Regions from separate parts of the Homo sapiens genome. Here all the other regions are linked to region 3. The links come from fine-mapping of genetic effects on gene expression. A gene starts in region 3. Each other region holds a variant in brackets. All regions are shown on one strand. Distances are between the middles of the regions.

Region 1 (5,973 bases), 170 kb before region 3:
AGCTGAGATCGTGCCACTGCACTCCAGCCTGGACAACAGAGCGAGACTCCATCTCGGCAGGTGGGGGAAAGATATATATGAAGCCTGTAACTGAAAAAGCAAGCGGTAGCTTTGTAAGCATTATTTGTGGAGATGAAGGATTTGAGGGTACTTTTCCTAGTTGCTTCAGAGTAGAAAATGGGATGGGGGACTAAGAGGACTGCTGATATTTGAAAAAACGGTGGGGGTGGGGAGGAACTAAGAGGACTGCTAATATTTAAAAAAAAAAAAAAAAAAAAGCCTTTTGGATTTGTTTTCCTAAACAGACTTTATGCATGTATAAGTTTGTCAAAACTGAAAATGAATACATGTATGAAATAAGTTTAAATGTGTGGATAACCCAGATATGTCATCTGTCATTCATCTCCTGTGTCTTTGTACAGTCTTGTGCAATTTAGATACACAACTCAATTTTACTTTGGGTAAAATAATCCATTTTTACAAAAGCAGAAGTGAGCAATGTGGACATGAAGGAACATTTCTTTAGTGAAGACAGTCTATGGATAACTCAAGAGTCCCCTTCCTTAATTTCTCCCTCCAGTCATCCTCTACTTTGCAAATCCAGATTCCTCATTTCTTTATTATATAGAACAATTGATTGCCTTATTTGGTTTCTTGAGTCTTCCCCTGAGATTCTGACCCGCCATACCCCAAGCTCATAAAGACATATAAAGACATTTTTTCCAAATAATTACATATAGCCCACTGCCTGATAAGAGTCTGGTGTATGATTTCTGTTTCTTCATCTGGATAAGGCCAAATTCCATTCCACTCATTAAATTTCTGTCTTCCTATTAAGGAACTTGATATTTGAATTACTTCTTGCTTTTTTTTTTTTTTTTTTTGAAGGAAGTAGAATCTCGGGAAAACAGCAGTCATTTCTTAAGAGATGTTAGAATTTAGAGGGTGAAAAAAAAAACAAAACTAATGTTCTTTTGTTAACATGCCATGAAAAACAGACTAGCTCCAAAACACACTAGTTACTTTGACTAAAGGGAATGTATGATTATTGAATAAAATGAACACCTGTGTAGCTGCCTTCTACCTGCTGGTACTGTTCAAAGCAATTTACACATATTAACCCATTTAAATGAGTGGGTTCTGTGTAATATATGGATGAGATATTCTCTATAGAAAGAGATGAAAAGGGCTATGAATAGTTTTAAAGGGCTATGAATACCCTAAAATACAGTGACTTACATAACCTTTTTACCAGTTAGAAATGTAACACTATATAATGTTTGGAAAATAGGACAATGTAAAGTGAAACAAATCACTCATAATCCTCCGTCTGAGAAATAGCTAGTTTTAACACTTTAATGGTTTTTATCTTTTGAAAAACTTACCTATTAACATCCTTCAGATAATGTAGGTATAATTATGTGCTTTTTAGAAACTTTGTATTATTTTCTCATGTCATTAAATTTTTTCATTAACAACATTTTAATAATGTTGTATCCTATGGCTAGTCCCTTGTTATTGGATGTTTTGATTTTAATTCTTTTCTGTTAAATAATCTTCCAGTGAGCATCTTTATTTGCATATGTTTGTCTTCATTTATGATTGTTTCTCTGTATTTACTGTATTTAAAGGATTTTGGTAGTTTGTGGTCTTATGACTAAAATTTTCTTCCAGTCTCCTTTCTCTGAGGCTGGTCAGATTTTGGGGAGTCTGTCTTTTCTTGCTGTGTCTATAGTATGTCCCACTCATTTCCAGGTCTCTGCTTTACTTTTCCAAATTTCCATAGCACTTTTAAGAATTCATATTTTGTTGTTCACATGTTTGACACTTCCGTGACATGTTCAGTTTGGGAGCAGGAACTGTGCATCTTTCTGTCACTCACCCTTGGCACAATGCCCTGTTTATACCTGTGAGGTTGTTAATGATTCTTGAATGAGCCTCTTGTGTCTGGTCTTGAGCTTGAATCCACTGACACTGGACTTCTGCATCTTATAGAAACTGTAGTGTGCTTGGGGTGAGAATTTATCACAGATACTGTTTCTTTTAAATTTGAGCTGAATGATATGTCAGGTAAATGACACAAAGATTGGAAATATTTTCTTATAACTATGTTATATAAATTTAATTTTTTGTGAAACAAGAATTTTACTATCCCTGCTTCTAAAGAGCAGGATAGACTTTACTAAATAGAATAGAATACTAAGAAGCAGCCAATGGAAATGGGTATTACTATTTAAAAATGCCAGTGAGTAGATGTTTTTGTAAAATGTTGCTTAATAGATTAATGTATCTATCTTTTTTTTTAATAGAGGAGAAAACTTCAGAAGTTTGACATCTAAACTTAAATACAACTACAGCTAAAGAGTTAGTCCAAAAAAGTTAAGTTTCAGTATTGTAAACGAGGTAAAACTAGGGAAATTTAAAGGTGTCTTGGCAGGCTCTTTCTGTGACATCATATATGAATTTTTTTCTTTTTTTTAATTCTCATTTCAAGTAGAAAATTTCAGATTTGAGATAAATATTTTCTTTTAAAAAATATTTATATGATTGCTAGGGTAGACCGTAACAACTGTGACCTGCTGAGAGGAGAGACTGTTATGTAGAGCTTTAAGTCAGCCTTGCTCAGTGTGTCTGGTGTTCCTTCTTGGTTTCCTTTTTTGTGCAGTGATTCATCAGGTGCTGTATGCTTCCAGAACCAGTGTAAGTGTGTGCACATGTCCCATTCCTGGTCTGTGATCTCTTCTATAATGAATAGGGGTATATTGTTTCCAGCTATTCTTATACAAGTAAAGAAGAAAAGCGTTCTAGAATCTGCTGTCAAACCTTCAGACTTCAGTAGTTTTGCTACCATTGTATCCTATTCTTATAATTCTTTTCTTTTTTTTTTTTTGAAACAGCATCTTGCTCTTGTCGCCCAGGCTGGAGTGCAATGGCA[C/T]GATCATGGCTCACTGCAGACTCGATCTCTCTGGGCTTAGGTGATCCTCCCACCTTAGCCTCCCGGGTAGCTGGGACTATAGGCATGTGCCACCATGCTCGGCTAATTTTTGTACTTTTTGTAGAGATAGGGTTTCGCCATGTTGCCCAGGCTGGTCTCAAACTCCTGGGCTCAAGCAATTCCCCTTCCTCGGCCTCACAAAGTGCTGGGATTACAGGCGTGAGCCACTGCGCCTGGCCAGTTCTTAGAATTCTTGATGGTGATCTCTGGCCTTCTGTCACAATTACATTTGGAGGGTTTTCTAAGTTGTGCTGAGCTCTGTTTGTACTTCTGCACACAGCCTAGGTAGCAAGCCAGGCTATCAGTTTTTCATAATGTTGGACTTGCTCCTCCTGTCTCCCTTCCTGAAGTATACCTGTGGCCCTAGATTTAAATTAAATGTTTCCACAAGTGGGAACTGTATTGGTTGAAGGCCTTATTTCCGAGTGGAGGGAAAGCTCTTTTGAGCAGATTCTTTGGCCATGCCCCTTCAATGTATTTGATACCAGGTAACCCCCCCATAAGCAGATACCCTAAGGAGTTGAAAGGAGGAAACTTTGAGTGGTTTGGGGGATGTTGAGAGATTATAGTTTAATCTAGATCTGCACATGCACAGAAGGAGTTTGAGGTTGTCATTAAAAGTCATAGATTATAGTGGCATTGGGGATTTTTTAAAATTAAGGTGACAGCTGTAAGTGGGATATGAGAGGGAGAGAGAATAGGACAGATTATGTAGTTGAATATAACTTTTTTATATCTAGTTAGTAGATACACATCTTTCTCTATATATATGTATTTGAACATTCAGTGCAAGTGTTTCTTTTGGCTACTCAAGTAATAATTACTTAGAATAGTTATGGGTATAAAAGGACGAAATGTATCAAATTAATTGTACCATGACATTCCTCTAATTTTGAGGTCAGTGGAAACCAGTCTTCTTGTCCTGGAATGTAACTTAGTGGACTAATCGCTATCTGGAATGCTACTGGAATGGGGAGGAATCAAAGAGAAAGCAGAAATAGAAGAAGAATGGAGAGAGGTGTAGGATAATTTTTCTCCCAGCCTAAGGCTATTATTTATCCAGTTTCCTGAACCATGTAAAACAAAGTAGAGAACCAGGAAATTGGCAGAAAAGCCCTCTAAGCCGCCAGAAGTTCATGAATCAAGACTCTCAGCACCTTACTCCACTTTAGGTGTTTACTTGCTGTATTTATTCATATTTTAAATACATTTTGATAACTGGTTTGCCAGCACACTGCAGATGAAAGAGAGCAAATTTCAGAAACTAGAAAGACTGTTTAGAATCAAGCACAAGTATCATAGGAACTAATTGAAAATTTACATTTTAGTGATGGAAAAGGAAGGTTTTTAAAGTAAAAAATAAGAATTCACAAAACTTAATAGGCATGGACAATTTGGTTAAAAAGCAACGGCTGTGTGCTGCTCTTCCTATCTGGAATGTCCTCATCCAAACTAGTCATTTTTTTAGGACTCATTATGAAGCTCCTTCATGAAGTTCTTCTGTCCTGTCCAGAAAGTTAGGTGCTTATCATTTAGATTATTCATTAAGTTAGTACTTAATAAATGAATGTGTCCAGTTAAACTCTGAGCCTTCTATACTGCTCCATTCCTCCTGTCACAATGGTTACTTCGTATCATAGCAGGAGTTCTTCCTGTGTTAAAGACATGCCCAACCTTTTCATTGTTTATGCCTTTGTAAATCATACTCCCCTTGCCTAAATATTACAAAATAGGACTCTTCATTCAAGACTCACTTTAAAAGTCAGTTCTTTGATAAGGCATTGCTGCAGCTTCCCTAGGCACAGTCATTTCCTTGTCTGTGTTGCCATCACTTCATATTCAGTATTTACTTAATTCTGAAATAACAGTTAGAAAATAAATTATTGGCTTAATACTAGTTGTAGGGAGTAAAATGAAAAATTAAGTATACATTCAGAAATACTTTACTGACAGAAGCATACAGTACATCCTCAGTGTGGCCAATAGGTTCTTGGACACTGCAACATTAAGTGAAATGATGTGTAACGAAACCAATTTTACCATAGACTAGTCGATATAAACAAGAGTTAAGTTCTTATGGCATATTTCTGGTCACAAAAACATTACCAAATATCTGATATTAAACATTGAAATAAGTAATTCCATACATACATTTAAGAAAGATTAATAAGACAACCCAATTTTTGGTGAATCAGTGAGTGACAGTGGTCATGGTAGGTAGTAGGTTAAATCAAAGAATAAATGTTTGCTAAGTGAAAATTGTAAGGAGCACCTCCTACCACACGAAGTTCAAAAACAATCATAAAAACAGCAAGCTTGCAGATTGCTCTCATACCACATCATTTCTTATAGAGCATTTGTATGATTATTGTATACTTTAGTAATTTTTATTTGACAATAATTTGTAATTATTAATTCATTTCTCTGATCTGCTGATTCCAGTTCAGGGTCATGAGTGGCCAGAGCCTCTCCCTGAAGCACATCTTTAGTATGTGGGAGAAAACCAGAATACCTGGAGAAAACCCATGCAGATATAGGGAGAAAGTGAAGATTCCACACAGTCGTCCCAGCCTGGAATTGATTTTGTTTTTTCTCATCAATGTCGTAATGAAACCATGTTAAATGAAATATTATTCAAGGATCTGCTGTCGTCTAGGCATAGTTCACTTTCTTCAATATAGAAAAATTTGAGTCTTAGCCTGAGTTTTAAGTCAACTAAATCATTTTGGCCATTGATTAAGAATAACATCATGGTAGCATGTTGCTTTTTTTTTTAACCTATGTTCTATGATCTTAACCTCTTTAGCAGCTTTGTCATTGACCTGTAACTTTGAAACTTAAAGTGTATAGGTTTCATTAGAATTTCCTACTGGTTAATCCCAGCTTTTTAATTGTCTTTGTGTTTTTAATTTTTATTTTTGTCCTTAATGTAATAGTGACCCTGAGTACTAATGCATGAAAAGGAAACACCATCCTTT
Region 2 (5,973 bases), 120 kb after region 3:
GGCCAGGCTGGTCTTGAACTCCTGACCGCAGGTGATCCTATCGTCTCCACCTCCCAAAGTGCTGGGATTACAGGTGTGAGCCACTGTGCCCGGCCTAGATTTCTGGTTTCTGTTGAAAAATTGGAAGACCTGGTATTATCTTATATATCACATATTATATATTATATTATTACGTATCGGGCATGTAGTTTCCCATGGCGATAACCTCCAGTTTTACCTTTTCTGCTTGTCTTCATGGCCCTAACCTGCTTTGTTGAACCAGTATCTGAACAGTGTGACTTGTGTGTCTCAAAGGCACAGCTCTCATGCTCTTGCAGACCCGGGAATAGGAGACCTAAGAAAACATACTTATTTATTTTGAGGAAATGGAGATACAGTGATGGATTCGTGCCAGAACGCAGACAACAAGCACCATCTCTTTATTCTCAAGCCAGTCCTCTTGCCACTGCTCTATGCTGCCTCCTTTAGTTTAAGTTTTATTTCAAAATGGAAAACATCTTTCCAAAACCATAGAGCCTTAAGTTAATCATATATCAAGTGGAAAAGAAGAAAGAAAAGATCACACTCTATGTGCAATATGATTAGAACAGTATTCAAATGGTGTATCGAGAAGTCTTTGAATAGCAGCATTAGGGAATGTTTTCCTTCTATTTTCCAAACTTTCTCTAAAAAGTATGTATTAACTTTTGTAATAAAATGAAACTCTATTTTTAAAGATTCTAAACACACTGAAACAGACACTTTGCCTAGTCATGACAATCCTATTTCCCTTTGCCAGACACTCACTTCCCTGCCTCCTTTGCAACTCAGCTTGGCCATGTGTCTCTGTCTTCTCTAATGAGATGTGGGGGGAAGTCTGCTGGTGCCTCAGGATTTCCAGGACTTTCAGTCTTGAACATAGTTATACAAAAATGCCAAGCAGAATTCTAACCTCCAGTGAAGAAAACAACAACCAAAAAAAAAAAAAAAACACTCAAAACTTGCACTTTTTTTTTTTTAAGGGATAGGATCTCACTCTTTCACCCAGGTGGGAGTGCAGTGGCACAGTCATATTTCACTACACCCTCAAATTCTTGGGCTCAGTCAAGGATTCCTCCCATCTCAGCCTCCCAAGTATCTGGGACTACTGATGCGTGACACCACACCTGGCTAATTTTAAACATTTTTGTAGAGACAGGGTCTCACCATGCTGCCCATGCTGGTCTCAAACTCCTGGACTCAAGCCATCCTCCCATCTCGACCTCCCATAGTGCAGGATTACAGGTGTGAGCCACCGCCCCGGCCCTGCACTCATTTTTAGATACCTCATTAAATAATATCCTTATGGCTTAAACAACTATTTTTTTTTATTACTTGCAGCCAAAAACTAGCTACACAAAAGAATATTTACTTTTTTTCAGATATTAAATTTAAATGTATTATCTGGAGTTTAGGATTACAGGCATACGCCACCATGCCCGGCTAATTTTTGTATTTTTAGTAGAGACAGATTTTCACCACGTTGGCCAGGCTGGTCTTGAACTCCTGGCCTCAGGTGATCCACCCACCTCTGCCTCCCAAAGTACTGGGATTACAGGCATGAGCCACCACACCTGGCCAGGATTTTATTGTACTTCTTTTCCCACTACTACCTGAGTAACTTGAAATGAGAGCCCATATTTGTTATTATCTCATCCAATGAAGAAGGCTAGTCAGGAGATCAATAGGGGACTATATCATATTTTCATATTTCCTTCAAGAGAATTTCCTTCCATCAACCATGTTAGTTCATTTTTTTTAACCATGTTAGTTCATTTTTTACAAGTTTGGTTCTGACAATCCTTGCGTTCCATGGGGTAGATCAGGTAGAAAAATGTTTGATCATTCAAAACATGGAAAGGTATCCATTTGATGGTAAACATTTTATGTTTGTTATCATAAAGGTGTTCTACATATGCTGGAGGAGGCAGAGCACAGTGCTCACCATGGGTTGCCACTGATCTACTTCATTGGTGATGCCGAATACTAGGGGTGAGGAGGTAGGAGTCAGAAACTTAGAGGGGGCGGTGGGAGAGAGTAGGAGGTAGACAAGTTGAAGAAGTGGTTTGAAAGTTTGGAGATCTTTACCTGGAGAAGAGAACACTTAGAGAAGGTAAGAACTATTAGTTAGTTTCTTGTGGGTTCCTGGATTAGGGACTCATCTGGTTTATTTTAGGTAATTCAGGAATTTTTAGAAGGATATATGTGAAAATACAGGCAAGACTCTCGATTGTGGCAACCCAGGAAGAGCTGACAGTCAAGTTAGTTGGAAGGAAGAGTCATGTTGTAGCTGGGTCTAACTGAGCCTAGAGCTGAGATCTAGTGCAGGAAATCATTCAAAATTATTGATAGAACCTATTGAAATTATAGGTAAGCTGGTTATTATACTGTACCTCCAGCCACAGGACTCCTATTCTAGTGCTCCATCATTAACATTAACATGACTTGGCTATTTTTCATTTTGTGTCTCTGCTTTGTTAATGTTACTGTCTAATTGACCTTTTCCCATGTTTCCAGACAAAAGTGCTGAGAGAAAGAATCTCATTGATGAACTGTCCTTAGTAAGACAAACACTTGTGCTGGGTTTCCTCATAGGTCACACATGAGCCCATAAATGGACCAGGATGGTGGAAACACACAGAACATGGCCACTTAGGTATAAGGAAGTAAGTTGCATCCCTCAGCTTGGAATGGTGGACACAGCAGACCCACCTACTCAGCCATCAGAAGCCTCTGTAGGAAACAGCTGCTGACCTAGGTATTTGAAAGGCTGCCATATTGAAACTCTGGACTTTTTTTTTTTTTTTTAAGATGGAGTTTCATTCTTGTTGTCCAGGTTGGAATACAATGGCGCGATCTCAGCTTATCGCAACCTCCACCTCCCAAGTTCAAGCAATTCTTCTACCTCAGCCTCCCGAGTAGCTGGGATTACAGGCATGCGCCACCACGCCTGGCTAATTTTGTATTTTTAGTAGAGACAGGGTTTCCCCATGTTGGTCAGGCAGGTCTCGAACTGC[A/G]GACCTCAGGTGATCCTCCCGCCTGGGCCTCCCAAAGTGCTGGGATTAGAGGTGTGGGCCACTGCGCCCGGCCAACATTTTTTATTTTACTCCAGAAGGCAAAGGGAGGATAGAGACAACTAATGAAGACTTTCAAACAATGAGTACTATCTGAAAGCAAAACGGGCCTCCTTTAGAGATAGAGTGTAGCTCGTTCCTGGAAATGTTTTAAGGGATGATAGATGGCTTCATGGCCGGGAAATGGTAGCTTAGAATGGAGATTAGAACATTTAGATCATCTGCTGATGATTTACATCTGCCAAAATGGGACATGTAGAAGTAATTCTAGGACCAGAGGAGTCTCAAAAGTCTAAGATGGCCTTGAGGAATTTTGAGCCTCAAAAAACTCTCAGAAATATCAGGCTCTGACTCTTCTCTGAGGCAGATATTTAACCAGAGGTAGGCTTTAAGGGGTCACTCATACCACAAAGTGACCATAAAAAATTTCAAACTCAGTTTACCTTGAGGGTTGATTTCAGAGAGTACCAAGCACTGGACGTTGAAGAGATTTCTCAGCTCTCATCACAGTTTCAAATTGAGGCATTGAAAACCTCAAGTTAAAAATGTACGTGTGTCAGGGCTGGGCGTGGTGGCTCACGCCTATAATCCCATCACTTTGGGAGGCCAAGGCGAGCAGACACTTGAAGTCAGGAGTTAGAACCCAGCCTGGCCAACATGGTGAAACCCTATCTCTACTAAAAATACAAAAATTAGCTGGGTGTGGTGGCGGGCGTCTGTAATGCCAGCTACTTGGGAGGCTGAGGCAGGAGGATTGCTTGAACCTGGGAGGTGGAGGTTGCAGTGAGCCGAGATGGAGACACTGCATTCCAGCCTGGGTGACAGAGTAAGACTCCATCTCAAAAAAAAAAAAATGTGTTTGTGTCGGCCAGGTGAAGATGCCTCACGCCTATAATCCCAGCACTGTGCGAGGCAGAGGCAGAAGTTCCAGACCAGCCTGGCCAACATGGTGAAACATTTTTAGTCTCTACTAAAAATACAAAAATTAGCCAGGTATTTGGGAGGAGGCTGAGGCTTGAGAATTGCTTGAACCTGGGAGGCGAAGGTTGCAGTGAGCCAAGATTGTGCCACTGTGCTCTAGCCTGGGTGAAAGAGCGAGACCTTGTCTCAAAAAAAAGAAAGTATGTATGTCCATAGAATACTATGCAACCATAAAAAAGAATGAGATCACGTCTTTTGCTGGAACATGGATGAAACTGGAGGCCATTATTCTCAGCAAACTAATGCAGGAACAGAAAACCAAATACCGCATGTTCTGACTTGTAAGTTGGAGCTAAATGATAAGAACTTATGAACACAAAGAAGGAAACAACCAACACTGGGGTCTACTAGAGAGTGGAGGGTGGGAGGAGGGAGAGGAGCAGAAAAGATAACTATTGGGTACTGGGCTTAATACCTGGGTAACAAAATCTGTCCAACAACCCCCCGTACATAGGTTTACCTATGTAACAAACATTCACATGTACCCCTGAACCTAAAAAAAAATTTTTAAAGGGGTGTGTGTGTGTGTGTGTGTGTGTGTGTGTGTATTTGTGATAACACATCTTGTCATATAGGAATTAATTAAATGAATTAGGCAGTAATCTAATCACAGGGCTGAAGACTTCAAGAAGGACAATAGCAGAATAGCTGTGGGGAATAACTCATTACACTAACTTTCAGTAAGTTTGGAATCTTTTCCTCTGGGGCAATGTTTTAAGGGACGGGAAGGAAGGGAGAAACAAAAAAGAGAAGGAAGAAGAGAGATAACACTTAACTGGACACCTGCTGTGGAACAGGCACCGGCCACTTCCAAGGCTTCCTACAGTGAGCAGCTCTGAGCACTAGAATCTCTCATCTCCTTGGGGTGATAAATGAATGATGGCCCACTTTCCACACTAGTGGTAGTCACATGAAAGCACTGTACTTTGACATTAACTATTTCTCAGGAAAAAAGAGAAAGTTTGACTCGTATTGTTCGTTGTTTGCATTAGGTCAACCTAATGCTCCAACATTAACCTAGAACTGTAGTTTTCTTGATTACAGCATGGCTGACCCATGCAAAGTTGCTTACAAATACTTGAATTCACTAATGCTATTTGCAAATTACTGCAAGTGTCATAATGACACATTGTTCAGTTCTTAGGACTTTGTGAGGACCCATCTTGAGAAGGATTTGACTTCAAAAGATTGAGATTAAGGCTTAAAGAAAATAACCTTTGGAATTCAACCTCCAGTGAGGGAACTGGCAAGCAATCTTTGTTCAATATTTTTTTCAGAAGTGTCCTGAATGTAGGTGAACAGTAACCAGTGTGCTCCAGAGCCAGGCTCACAGGAAATCTGGGTGAGTCTAAAGAAGAAGAAAAAGAAAAATCTAATCGTGGGAAAGCATGGGAATAAAAAAAAAAATGAAAAAGGCAACTCAATACACTGTTTTTTTTTTCCTTTTTTTTTTTTTTTTTTTGAGATGGAGCCTTGTTCTGTCACCCAGGCTGGAGTGCAGTGGCATGATCTCGGCTCACTGCAACGTCTGCCTCCCGGATTCAAGCAGTTGTCCTACCTCAGCCTCCAGAGTAGCTGGGACTACAGGTGCGTGCCACCACGCCCAGCTATTTTTTGTGTTTTTAGTAGAGATGGGGTTTCACCGTTAGCCAGATGATCTCGATCTCCTGACCTCGTGATCCGCCCACCTCGGCCTCCCAAAGTGTTGGGATTACAGGCGTGAGCCACCTCGCCCTGCCAATACACTGGTATTCTTATCATTTCCTCAGTGCCCTGTCTTGTGCCTCTGGCCCTGCCCTGCTTATTCCACCTCAGGAAAGGACTATACTCAGAGGGCGCCTTCCTTGCCCCAGGACAGGTAAACAGGGTAAAGAATGGTGCAATGCCCTGCTGGCTTCCA
Region 3 (5,973 bases):
GAGGTCAGTTTGTCCTAGCTAGTACCCGGCCTCCAGTAAAACCTTGTAGGTTTTTAAATACTGATCCTGCTTGTGGCTCCCACCCACATAAATGATTAGGTTGCAGTCCAGAGAGGTCTAAATAATCATTGTAGCAAGTGGAATTAGGCTTGAGGTTAGAAAAAACTTCCCCAACTTTGACCACATTTCCAATTGTCTACCTCTGAGCTTTTGCTATTTGCAAAGGTGAAGAAAAGCCGAAAAGAACAAAATCAAATACTATGGAAAAGAACAATGGGAAGGGCAGTTTAGAGTAATAAATGAGGACAGTGGAATGAAAATAAAGGAGATATTACTTTCATTTTGTAAAACTTATTATTATAAACCTTGGCAAGAATGCAATGTTTTATACATTTACATAACACTTGCAATCACACAAAAGTCATGACAGTGATTAAGAGAGTGGATTCTGGGCCAGGTGAGGTGGCTCACACCTGTAATCCCAGCACTTTGGGAGGCCGAGACAGGCGGATCACGAGGTTAGGATATTGAGACCATCCTGGCTAACACGGTGAAAACCAGTCTCTATTAAAAAAAAAATACAAAAAAAATTAGCCGGGCTTGGTGGCGGGCGCCTGTAGTCCCAGCTGCTCGGGAGGCTGAGGCAGGGGAATGGCGTGAACCTGGGAGGCGGAGCAGCTTGCAGTGAGCCGAGATCGCGCCACTGCATTCCAGTCTGGGCGACAGAGTGAGACTCCGTCTCAAAAAAAAAAAAAAAAAAGAGAGAGTGGATTCTGGAGGCAGACTGCGAGTGTCTAAAAATCTCAACTCTGCCACTTCCTAGTTAGCAGTGTGCCTTGGGCAAGTAACTTAATGTCTTTGCATATCAATTTACTCATCTATAAAACGGAAATGGTAATAATAGCACATCTCTAATAAGATCGTTATGATCACTAAATGTCAAAATTTGTAAGGTACTTAGAAAAGTCCTGGCATGTAGTGAAAACATAGGTAGGTATATTAGTCCGTTCTCACATTGCTATGAAGAACTACCTGCGACTGGGTAATTTACAAAAAAAGCGGGTTTAATTGGCTCATGGTTCTGCAGGCTGTACAGGAAGTATGGCTGGGGAGGCCACAGGAAACTTACAAACATGGTGGAAGGCAAAGGGGAAGAGAGCATGGCTGCTCCATGGCTGGAGCAGGAGGAAGAGAGCAAAGGGGGAAGTGCTACACACTTTTAAACAACCAGATCTCGTGATAACTCACTCAGAACAGCAAGGGAGAAATCCACCCCCATGATCCAATCACCTCCCACCAGCCCCCTCCTCCAACACTGGGGATTACAATTCTACATGACAGTTGGGTGGGGACACAAATCCAAACCATATCAGTAGGTGACAAATTTTTTAAGATCAACTTTAGGTAATAGGATTAATATGTAGTTTCCCTCCCATCTTTTAAATTTAAAACATGTGTTTCTTGATAATTGAGAAAAAAAGTAAAAGCTAAACTTTTACTAAAACACTTAAATAAAAATCTATATTTTTTCTTCTTGTGAGCTAGTTTCTAAATCTCCAACTTCTTCCCTTTTCTGCTTCTCCTGTGCCCAATATTAGACGTAACATACCTATGAGTAATCCTGAGGTCCTGATTACTCTTCAGCTTCTGGCATTATTATTTTATTATTGGGGTGAAATACCTGTAATGAAATTTACCATTTTACCCATTTTTTAGGTGTACAATTCACTGGCATTAAGTACATTCACAATGTTGTGCAAACATCACCACTATCTATTTCCAGAACTTCATCATCCCAAACAGAAACTCTGCACCCATTAAACAGTAACTCCCCAGTCTCCCTTACCCCCAGCCCTAGTAACCTCTATTCTACTTTCTGTCCTTATGAATTCACCTATTCTAGGTACCTCATATGAATGGAATCATACAATATATGCTCATTTGTGTTTGGCTTATTCACTTAGCAAAATGTTTTCAAGGTTCATCCATGTTATAGCTTGTATCACAATTTCATTTCTTTTTATGGCAGGATAATATTTCCTTATATGTATATATCACATACATTTTGTTTATCCATTCATCTGTTGGATACTAGGATTGTATCCACTTTTTGGCTATTGTAAATAATGCTTGCTTTGAACACTGGCATCTGTTGGAGTCTCTGCTTTCAATACTTATGGGATATACCTAGCAGTGAAATTGCTGGATTATAAGGTAATTGTATGTTTAACTTTTTAGGAACTGACAAACTTTTTCACAGAGCTACATCATTTTACATTCCCACCAGTATCCAGCATTAGTTTTAAACATGGCAGGCTTTTAAAATAAATCAAGCCTAAACTGGTAATATGTAGCAAAACTAAGAGTCCTGCAACAGTTTGCTGACAAGTTGCTGATATCAACACTCTTAACATATCATCTCCTAGACTAATGCAGTGTTTCTCAACATAGACAGCTGAGACTCCCATAGTAATCATCTATGGAGCTTGTTACATCAGAAGGGCCCTGGATCCCACCTTGTATATGTTGATTCAGCATCTCTGGAAATGGAGCCCCCAAATCAACATTACAAATGCTAAAGCATGAGACTCACCAACCCTAGATTGCTGAGTTCTTGAAGGTAGGGGAAATATCTTAGTCATCATTGTGTCCCTCAAGGCCAAACATACAACAGATATTTAACAAGTGTATACTTAAATTAACTAATACTGTAATCTAAAGCCTACCTGTTTAGTTGTTAAGTACCATATTCAATAAAATTAAACTCAATCACTAGACAACTAGGGAATCTGTAATTAAGGTGTGTAGCATACCTTTCATTTGCATAAAACACATGTCTTACCAGCTGTGTTCTATCATGCCCTTTGATGTTGCTAAGGATCTTTACACTATATGTAATTTTCAGCTCAGAACATCACGCTTTGAGGCAGGGTTAAAAAAAAAAAAAGGATATGGACTTGGAATTAGAAGAACTGTCTCTGTGTGACCTCTAAGACCAATATCTAGGAATCAAGTTTATAACTTGGAAACATTGAAAACATTTTGTAATTCTACCAACTTCATTGTTTGGCTGAAGCACAAATGATACTATGTGTAACAAAGCCTGCTGTAGAAACGTGGTCTCACAAAAAACAAACAAAAAAAACCATGTTTCCAAGTCTTCCTAAAGACTTTAAGTATCCAGCTGTGTAAGTTTAGTGCTCTAAGGTATACGCAAATAAGCAGATGAGAATGGAAACATATCGCAGAAAATTATTAAGTGCATGCACAACATTTATTCATTCATTCACTCATTCATTCATCACGCACATCCAGCAACTATATCAATATCCTGCAGGGCACTGTGTGGAAAACAGTGGTTAAATAAATTCAAATCTGCCCTCAGGGGATTTAGTTCCTTTTAGTATATTAATAACTAGCAAGCTGCCCCTCTTCATGTCAAAGCTTTACGTCAACAAAATAAGCGGTAGGGGATCACCTTAAACGTCACGGGTGCTGTCTCTTTAAAACGTAATAGAACTCTGATCGCATCGATCACAGGCTCACAACGCCCTTCCATTCATCGCTCTTATTCCAGTCCTGGTTACTACCCCACTTCCTGACATCAAACCAGGGAGAACGCGAGTGTTAGTTAACATGGCTTGGTGTGTGGCCACAGCTGACCCGGCGCATACCTCCCGTCCTCTCTTTACAGGGCTGGCGGTGTCTCGGGGCTCGGCTGGCCATGCCTGGAGCGCGGGGTTTGACTGGGCCGCCGTTGTTGTAGTGACCGGGAGGCGCTGCCGCTCTGGGCAGACGGTTCCGGGAGCCGCACGGTCCCCTCTCCTTCCCCATCCTCTCCCCTCCCCTCTCCGGGTTCCCCCACCCACAGGAGCCTTGGGCCGACCACTCCCCCGATGGCCTCAGCCACGGTAAGGACGGGTTGGAGGTGGGGGGGGTCCCTCCCTGGAGCCTGTCCCGCGGGCTGCGGGGCCAGGTCCGGGCCGAAGCCGCACCTGGAGGGAGATGGAGGCAGGTGTCCGTAGCCGGGTCCTGAGCCCCTCGTCCCGGGGCGTCCGTATCTCACTCTCTGCCATCGGGGCGGACGGAGTGCGGAACCCAGACCCGGCTCCCGGACGCTCTTCCCCGAGTTCCGGAGCTCCGGACTGAGCTGGGCGGCCCCACGGCCCCCAGAATTCTCGGAGGGTTTCCGTGGAGCGCCTGCGTCAGAATCACCTAGGAAGTATTAAAAAAAAAAAAAGTACCAAAGCCGAGGCGCATCCTCGCACCTGCCTGCCTTGGGCCAGCGGGCGGGGCCCGGGAACGTGCATTTCAAAGGGGCCGCGGTTCCTGCGATGCGCTGGACTCTGGGAAGCGCGAACAGAGCGTTTTGCGGGCTCTGCGGGGAGAGCTGGCGCCGGCGTCTCCCTGTAGCAGGACTGGGCGCCGCGCCCGTGGGTGGGCTGCTGCCCGGCCCCGCCGCCCAGCCAAGCCGCCGCCTGGGTGGCCATTCCCAAGCCGGACTCCGGGGAAGTGGCAGCGTGGATCCCAGCCGCCAGAATTCGAGGTCTGCGGCGGCTTTCAAAACTTGACAACTTTCCTTTCCAGGAGGACCCCGTTCTGGAGCGTTATTTCAAAGGCCACAAAGCTGCGATCACCTCCTTGGACCTCAGCCCCAACGGCAAGCAACTTGGTAAGTCTTATTCTTGTTTTGCTTTTGTAATGAGACTAAACTCCATGGGCCGGAAACCTTTCCTCCTGTCCGGGCAGGGTCCCTAGGAGAACGGCTAAGGGCCTGTATGAGGGTTGAGAGCACCCGGAGACGAGGGCCCAGCGCGGCGGGGCGCAGCTAGGGCCCCCTCTGCCATCCCGGCCCCCAGCCCCCGGCCCGGCCAAGAGCCTCCTATCCAGCGGTCTGGGCCTGGCGGACGACTTTCGCAAACTAACCACCAGGAGGAGTGAGTGGGAAGGGGAGGGGTTTCTCCTCGGCCCGGGGAGGGTGGGGTGTTGGCTGGAGAGTTTGTGAAAAGTTGTGAGCCGAGCAGGAGGAAGTAGGGAGAGAGGAGTTGGGCTGTGCCGGAGGCCGAGGACCGAGAGGGCTCAGGTGACCCCTGGAAAGCCTGGGTGGCTGGAAAGGAGCCTAGCGCCTGCATGAAAGGAAGAACCTGCTGGGAAGTACCTGAGCTCGAGCTGTGGGTTCCGCCGCCCTTCCCCTGCGTGGTGGCTTGGTGGCCGCGTCTGCGCCTCAGCCCTGAGAATCCGGATGGCGGTGAGGTGGACTTGGGCAGGCAAGAGCTGCCTGCTGCTGGCGTTTTTAACAGTGGCCTATATCTTCGTGGAGCTCTTGGTCTCTACTTTTCATGCCTCCGCAGGAGCCGGCCGTGCCAGGGAGCTGGGGTCAAGAAGGCTCTCAGACCTCCAGAAAAATACGGAGGATTTGTCTCGACCGCTTTATAAGAAGCCCCCTGCAGATTCCCGTGCACTTGGGGAGTGGGGGAAAGCCAGCAAACTCCAGCTCAACGAGGATGAACTGAAGCAGCAAGAAGAACTCATTGAGAGATACGCCATCAATATTTACCTCAGTGACAGGATTTCCCTGCATCGACACATAGAGGATAAAAGAATGTATGAGTGTAAGTCCCAGAAGTTCAACTATAGGACACTTCCTACCACCTCTGTTATCATTGCTTTCTATAACGAAGCCTGGTCGACTTTGCTCCGTACCATTCACAGTGTTTTAGAAACTTCTCCTGCAGTTCTTTTGAAAGAGATCATCTTGGTGGATGACTTGAGTGACAGAGTTTATTTGAAGACACAACTTGAAACTTACATCAGCAATCTTGATAGAGTACGCTTGATTAGGACCAATAAGCGAGAGGGGCTGGTTAGGGCCCGTCTGATTGGGGCCACTTTCGCCACTGGGGACGTCCTCACTTTCCTGGATTGTCACTGTGAGTGTAATTCCGGTTGGCTGGAACCGCTTTTGGAAAGGAT

What was found. PIP is the estimated chance that this variant, and not a neighbour inherited with it, causes the effect.
Region 1: its variant is the best candidate, but not a certain one, in a credible set for the expression of POC1B in transverse colon (GTEx, PIP 0.66).
Region 2: its variant is the best candidate, but not a certain one, in a credible set for the expression of POC1B in tibial nerve (GTEx, PIP 0.60).

Annotation. Positions count from the first base shown.
Region 1 is chr12:89,691,976-89,697,948 of GRCh38, reverse strand. The region is part of intron 1 of ATP2B1 (ATPase plasma membrane Ca2+ transporting 1); the gene reads left to right. Among named protein-coding and RNA genes, the nearest start is that of ATP2B1, 14 kb to the left of the region's middle. The variant C/T (reference allele first, on the strand shown) is at 2,936.
Region 2 is chr12:89,400,986-89,406,958 of GRCh38, reverse strand. All of the region lies in intron 9 of POC1B-DUSP6 (POC1B-DUSP6 readthrough), which reads left to right. The region is part of intron 1 of LOC124902981 (a long non-coding RNA gene); the gene reads right to left. It also overlaps a transcript of POC1B not described here. Among named protein-coding and RNA genes, the nearest start is that of DUSP6, 51 kb to the right of the region's middle. The variant A/G (reference allele first, on the strand shown) is at 3,036.
Region 3 is chr12:89,523,819-89,529,791 of GRCh38, reverse strand. POC1B (POC1 centriolar protein B) reads left to right here and starts at 3,745. Exons shown (of 12, transcript NM_172240.3): 1 at 3,745-3,911; 2 at 4,588-4,672. The coding sequence starts at 3,897. It overlaps POC1B-DUSP6 (POC1B-DUSP6 readthrough), which reads left to right and starts at 3,745. Exons shown (of 11, transcript NR_189589.1): 1 at 3,745-3,911; 2 at 4,588-4,672. It overlaps POC1B-GALNT4 (POC1B-GALNT4 readthrough), which reads left to right and starts at 3,530. Exons shown (of 3, transcript NM_001199782.1): 1 at 3,530-3,911; 2 at 4,588-4,672. The coding sequence starts at 3,637. GALNT4 (polypeptide N-acetylgalactosaminyltransferase 4) reads left to right here and starts at 4,996. Exons shown (of 1, transcript NM_003774.5): 1 at 4,996-5,973. The coding sequence starts at 5,243. It also overlaps POC1B-AS1. RefSeq lists silencers at 3,790-4,049, 4,600-4,979 and an enhancer at 5,070-5,279.